Homo sapiens: one gene and its partner. The protein of the gene in region 2 interacts with the protein of the main gene of each other region in a pairwise test. Each region holds a gene or a part of one and is shown on either strand. Other genes may lie near its edges.

Region 1 (3,500 bases), on a different chromosome or scaffold from region 2:
AGTCTCAGACATCCCATCATGGGGGCGGTAACTCGAGTCTGGGCTCCCGGAGGACACTGAAGATGGAGGCCTGCTCCGTAGCCCTCTCAGGACTGGGTCATTCTGTTCCTCGCCAGTGGGAGAGCAGTGGGGCCTGGTCCCGAGCGTGGCCACAGGGCCCAGCTGTCCCTGTGCTTCTGTCAAGGGCGGCACATTCTGTCCTTCACGCAACAGCACCATCCCCTCAGCTCATCCCCCATCATGCCTGAAGGAACTATGTGGTGCAGGTTCCCACCCCCAGCCTGGAAGTGTGGAGCCAGACCTGTCTCCTTTTACGTCAGATTCCATCTCCCTGCCTCCCTTTTTCCCCTCTCGTGGCCTGCATTTCTCTCTCCTTCTTGGAGTCTCTGTTTTTGTCTTGCTCTTTCTCTTCTCTCTCCTCCTTCCTTCCCTCCTCCCCCTGCCATTCCTCTGACCCCTTTCCTTCATCTCCATTTGGTTTCATCCTCCGTCCTTCCCTTCTTTCTTGCTCTGCCTCTAGCGCAGGACAGGGTCCATGTGATGTGAGAACCTCCACGCCAAGGCTTGGTTGGGACAGCCCAGGTCTCCCCGCAGGCAAGGAGACTGGAAGGGACGTGGGCCCAGCCACACCCTATAAAGTGGCCATGCACTAAGGACCTGTCCAGAGTCTCCTCTCATATTCTGTTCCATGCTTCTTGCAAGGACTTTCCAACAGAGTGTCCCAGGACAGGAGGAACTTAGGCCACCCAGCATGGAGGCCAGTGGACAGAGGCCAGACCGGCACTGTGGGGGTGCTTGGGCTGGAGGACCCCAGGTACTTCCGGCTTGGAGACATCCTGGACCATCTCCCTGTGATGTTTCATGGGGCCTCAGAATGGAGACCTCACAGTCCCTCCACCTGTCCATCTAGAATATCTACATGCACCAAAGGCCCGCAACACTGCCAGCCCCGAAACATTCCTTCCTACCTTAATCCTCAGACACCCCGAGGAAGGAACGGGTATAGGTGATTTCCCGTGCCTGTGGGCTACAGCCCAGGCTCTGAGCTTGGCACTCACAGCCTTCATAGTCTTGCTGACTGGCTTGCCCTTGGGCCCACCCTGGCCATGTGCCCTGTTCACCCCCAACTCTTACTGTTGTGGGACACTTCTCATGCCTGGGGTGATTGTGTAATGTATGATCACATCTGGGATGCTTTGGCGGGTGGAAGGAGACACTGAATAGTCAATTCCATGGCAACAAGCACAGGCCAGGACTGTCCGAGGCAAACCAGGGCATATGGGCACCCCATTCACCCCTCAGTGTCTTCCTTTCCCTTGGCCTGAGCTGTTGAACCCACCCTTCTTGTCTGGCAGCCTCTCCCTCCCAGCAAGCCCAAAATTGTCAGAGCATCTGTAGCTGCTTTGTGTTCTTAGGGCCTTCTGTCAGCGGGTCCTCTCCCTGCAGGCTGCCTGCCCTCCCTGTCTCCCTACCCTCCTCAGCCCTGGCACACCCAGTTGGTGCTCAGTGAGGCAGGGATTCAAATCTTTGAACCGGGAGTTGTTCTGGGGTGCTACCCCCATGGGTACTTTGAGGCCCAAAAGCCCTCCCTCTGTCCTCCCTGGGCAAGGTCCCTTCCAGGCCAGGCCCTCTCCAGGTCAGAGTCCTTCACCATCCTGTCTCCCTTTCTCTCCCTCTCCCGCGGTCAGTGGCGGCCAGAGGAGTCCGAGGACTATGTAAGTAACAGGTGTGCGAACGCGGACAAGACATGGGTCAAGCTGGGCTCGTGGGACGCTCCTCCTCTCCCTCCTTTCCTGCTAGCCTGCACTGCCAAGATCCACAGGGCTCTAGCCACATCAGGAGAAAATTGGCGTTTAGACACAAGCACTGAGCTGAGCAGCGATTGGCATTTCCTCTAATCCTTACTTCTTGCCTGTCGAGCAGCAATTTGAGGCCAGTGTTCATGATCGACCAGGGCCTGGCCCCTGCCCCGGCCAGACAGGGATGGAGTTAAATCCAATCCTGATCGTTAGGCCTTATTGATCCCTGGAGTGAAAAATCACCTGCTTTAGGGCCCAGGCTGGGAGGGCTGTCTGGAGAGTCGGATTCTGGCATTGGTGCATTCTGGAGCCCCAGCCCTGGGAGACCCTCCAGCTGTGGCAGGAGGGGTCCATGAGGGGGTGGTGGCAGCTGCAGGGGCCCCACTCAAGGCCAGAGCTGGAGGGATACCAGGGTTGATGACGGCTCTGTTCCCACTGCACGGTGGTCCCTGCCCTGCTTCCCACTCTTCTCTCTGTGTGGTGTGGCTTGACCTCCCATGGTGTTTCTCCGCATGTCCAGAGATGATGCCTTTGCTGCAGATGGGTATATGGGCAGGGTCTGCCAAGCGGGGAGGACATTGCCCTGGCTGCTGTCTCAGGCATCACTGAGAACAGATGTGGAAGCCAGTTCCCCAGGTGTGGAGGTTTTCTTATTCTCCTAGCCCCTCCCCTGCCTTTCTCAAGAGGTATTGCAGGGTATAGACATTCACAGAGTTAGTGGCCTATATGGGGGCAGCGGAGTCCTGACTGGGTCCTATAGGATGGCACCTTAGCCCATCCTGCCACCTTGCTCTGTCTGTGCATGCATGCACTGGTGTCCACAGGCAGCCTTACGCCTGCTTATGCAGGAGCTGTAGGCTGTGTGCGTGTGGCTGCCAAGAGCCACGCAAGGTGCTGGGTGCGTGCGAGGCTGTGCCCTGTTGATATCCTCAGTCTCCGTTCACAGCACAGTGGAGTGAGGGAAACAGTCTGGCCCTTTGTTCTTGTCTGAAAAGAATAATGAGCTGTCTGCCCCAGGCGTGCGGCTCCTGGGATGGGCGGGGTCCTCCCAGGCCTGCATCCTACCTGCCTGCTTCCTCTCCAGCAGAGGCCACCATTGTATAGCCCCACCTTCCACAACCCCTGGCCTTGTGTGCCCCGGGGCTCCCCTCAGGCTAGGGTCCTGAGGTCCCTGACAAGGTCTGGCCTCTCCCTGCATTCTTGTGATGGGAACGAACCCCTCCTCCTCCCTCAGGAAACCACTATCAGCGGCCTGACCCCGGAGACCACCTACTCCGTTACTGTTGCTGCCTATACCACCAAGGGGGATGGTGCCCGCAGCAAGCCCAAAATTGTCACTACAACAGGTGCAGGTGAGTGAGGGGTCAGGACGGACCTGAGGGTGGGGCAGCAGGAGGGCAGCGCCAGAGCCCAGCCCGTGGTCCTTCAGTCCCAGGCCGGCCCACCATGATGATCAGCACCACGGCCATGAACACTGCGCTGCTCCAGTGGCACCCACCCAAGGAACTGCCTGGCGAGCTGCTGGGCTACCGGCTGCAGTACTGCCGGGCCGACGAGGCGCGGCCCAACACCATAGATTTCGGCAAGGATGACCAGCACTTCACAGTCACCGGCCTGCACAAGGGGACCACCTACATCTTCCGGCTTGCTGCCAAGAACCGGGCTGGCTTGGGTGAGGAGTTCGAGAAGGAGATCAGGACC
Region 2 (3,500 bases):
GGCACCAATCCCCTGCCTGTAAGCTCCATGTCAGCACGGCTGTGGGCTTGAGCCCTCCCAGGACGCTGCTGGAGCCCCATGGCCTCTCTCCTCTCGCCAGAAGGGCACCCCCAAATAAAACCGTGTGCAGCTATCACACAGCCCCCTGGTCCAGGCACCCCTTCCCAGTGCCCTGAGAATTTTGTCCTGCAGGCTAAGGTGCTCCTCATGTTCCCCTCCCTCTGCCACAACCATCCCTCCTGGGGGAGGAGGACCAGACCATGGGCTCCAATGCAAGCCTCAGGAGGCATACGTCCCTCCTCCCTTCCCCAAGCCCTCGGCCTCTGCTGGGCATATCCAGGCAGCCTGCAATTCCTCAAGCAGGAGCCACCAGAATGTGACAGCCCTTCTAGGGGTCTCAACTCCACCCTGTCCTACACCCCTGCATGAGCCTGCCCTGGTTCCTGCGTGGCTCCTCATTCTCTAAGCCTCCCAGGCCCTCCAGGGACACACAGCAGACAGAGGTCCCAGCAAGGCCCACGGTGACCCATAAAGGAGGCTCCTTGAAACCCAGAAAATCTTTCCAAACTCTCATTCAAGTCCCGCTTGGGGCATCTTGGCATGTTCCCATCAGACAGAGAGAGCCACCTCTCCTGAGCTTGCAGACCCCCACCCCCATGCATTCCGGTCTTTCTGGGTCTCCAGGGTAGCACCCTCCACCCCATATCCAGCTTCTTCCTCCAAGATTCTGTGGCAAAGCCAGCAACCAGGCCCCCCATTACCACAGCATCCAAGACCTAGCGCTCTGCGACTCACCCTCCTGGCTCCGGGGTGTAGCCTCAGCCACAGGGGGCTGGGGCTTGGGCTCCAGCCTGCTCTGCAGCTGAGACACAGGGGCAGGCTCTGAATTCTCCAAGGTCTGGGCTGGGCTGGGGGCGGTGGGCGCCTCAGCAGGCTTGGGCATCTGGATCTCCACCCTCTTGGGGGCTGCGTCGGTGGCAGGGGCAGTGGGCACCTCGGGGACCTTGGAGGCAGGGGGCTCCATCCTCCGGTGGGCTGACTCCTGGGGTTTGACGATGGTGATCTCCGTCCTCCGAGGGGCCGGTTCTGGCGTCTTGTGGCCCAACACCTCGGCCCTCTTGAGCCCGAACCGGGACGGGCCGATGGCCCCGGCGTTCTCCACCTGCTTGGACGAGATGTCAATGGACAGCTCAGTGCGCCGGGACACCGGCTCGGCCGCCTTGGGGCCCGAGAGCTCCACCCTCCGCAGGGACGCCTTGGGGGAGCGTTGGCTTAGGGAGTCCACATGGCGGGCCGAGGGTTCTGAGTTCTTCACGCCCAGGTCCTGGAATTTCTGGGTGGAGCTGGCCACAGTGGCTCGGAGTAGGGGAGTCTGGACCCTCCGGGGTGGGGTGGAGTTGGGTGTCTCGACCTCCTCGACCTCAAAAGATCTTTTCAAGGCTGAAAAATAAAGAGAGGGGATGCAATTGGTGAATGGATGGCTAGGGAACACTCCGGCATGTTTCCTGCTAAGGAGCAGCAGAGGAAGGCAGGCGATGCGGCGGTGAGGGCCGGGGGTCTCTTCCCGTCCTTCATGTCTCAGCAAGCGGAAGGGACAGCCCCATCCTAGGAGAACCATCATGAGTTCTGGGGCAGAGATGCAGGCTGGAGTGGGAAGATGCTGCCCGTCGTGTCTTGCCATGGCCACGGCGCAAACCACACAGCCTCCCCCTCCAGCTACGTCTACATAGGAACGTTCTAGTTCCAGAGAAGACTTTTATTTCCTTCTTTTTTTTTTTGAGATGGAGTCTTGCTCTGTTGCCCTGGCTGGAGTGCAGCGGCACCTCCCGGGTTCAAGCGATTCTCCTACCTCAGCCTCCCCAGTAGCTGGGATTATAGGCACGGGCCACCATGCCTGGCTAATTTTTGTATTTTTAGTAGAGATGGGGTTTCACCATGTTGGTCAGTCTGGTCTCGGACTCCTGACCTCAAGCGATCCACCCGCCTCGGCCTCCCAAAGTGCTGGGATTACAGGCGTGCGCCACCGTGCCCGGCCTTGATTTCCTTCTTGTCGCGGCTGTTTTTATCCCTCCTCACCTCCAGCCAAGGCACACACTGGGACACCACCAGCAAACACACCTCTACCATCAGCCACAGCGGGGGACATGCCTCCAATAATAAGTGACCGCAACTGTAACCAATCAGAACCGCAGCAGGAACAAAACCCCATCAATGACACTAAGGGCGGACACTGGAGCTTTCAGTGCCGGCGAGGCGCCGGGCCTACCGAGCTCATCACATCTGCAGCCGCTTAACCCTGGGATGTAAAGAATACCAGTACCCCCAGTACAGATGGGGAAAGTGGGGCACGGGGTAGACACAGAGCCAGACTGTACATCAGGCTGATACCAGAGCCCAAGGTTCTAACCACTTGGTTGTCCGGCTCCCCCAGCTTAGTCCACAGGAACCAACTTTCTCAGTCATCAGCCTCTCCTGCATCTTCCCATCCACTACTACAAGCCCGTGCAGTGATGCCAACCACCAGCTCCCGCCCTGCAGCCATCCTGCCTCTCCACCAGGGTCTGCTCCCTCGGAGGCAGTGGGGATGGTACCTGGGAAGCTGCCACCTCCACAGTCCCCACAACCGCACTCCAAATGAGAGCCAGCCGCTCCTGGTTATCAGGGCCAGAGCAGGGAGGGACCCACATGGCAGGCACATTCACCAGCTCCTTCCCCAGGCCAGACCCACAGCGCACCCCTGTGGAGACCCACAGTGTCTCCCCAGCCGCTCCCTGCCTCACCAGGCCACAGAGTCCGGGTCTCATGGGATCCCACCACTGCCTCCCCTGCCCACAGGAAAAGGGATGACAGCTGGTCCCCAGCCCCCAATAATAGCGCTCCAGGACCAATTTCAGTGCCTTCCCCTCACCCGTCTCTCTTCCTCCAAATGCACTCAGGCACTGGGGAGGGGAAGAGGAAGCCCAACCCCCTAACCCTGGCCGCCTCAGCTGCCAGCTTCCTGGGCAAGGCACTCCTGTGGGCGCCCTCTCTAAGCCACAGGCACCTCTCCTTCTTGGTGGACACAGACGAAATCCTGGGTCACTAAGCTCAACCTCCACCAGAAGCTGGGCAAGGAGCCGTGTGGACTCCAGAGAACTCTCAGTTGTCACAGGCCCTGTCTCAGCTCCGTCACTGCCCTAGAGGATATGGGCCCGGCGTGGCCAGAGCTGTTCACTTCTCAAGAGAGTAGAAATCTGGATCTTTATATGATATCTCCTGATCTTTAAATGCTGGCACAAAGCAAAACAAGCCCTTTTTAAAACACTGAGCAGCCTGGCTGATGTGGTGAAACCCCATCTTTACTAAAAATAAAAAATTAGCTGGGCATGGTGACACTCGCCTATAGTCCCAGCTACTCAGGAGGCTGAGGCAGGAGAATCGCTTGAACCCGGGAGGCAGAGGTTGCAGAGCTGAGATCGTGTCACTGCACTCAGCCTGACTGACAGAGCGAGACTCTGTCT

What was found. Proteins that work in one complex are often made in the same cells at the same time.
Region 1: the proteins of SEPTIN9 (region 2) and PTPRF interact in a two-hybrid assay, tested with the Homo sapiens proteins (one study listed by BioGRID).

Annotation. Positions count from the first base shown.
Region 1 is NC_000001.11:43,600,383-43,603,882, forward strand, and holds part of PTPRF (receptor-type tyrosine-protein phosphatase F isoform 1 precursor), read left to right. Parts: intron 1-1,688; coding exon 1,689-1,715; intron 1,716-3,033; coding exon 3,034-3,151; intron 3,152-3,228; coding exon 3,229-3,500. UniProt on the Homo sapiens protein: Possible cell adhesion receptor. It possesses an intrinsic protein tyrosine phosphatase activity (PTPase) and dephosphorylates EPHA2 regulating its activity.
Region 2 is NC_000017.11:77,399,999-77,403,498, reverse strand, and holds part of SEPTIN9 (septin-9), read right to left. Parts: intron 1,441-3,500; coding exon 796-1,440; intron 1-795.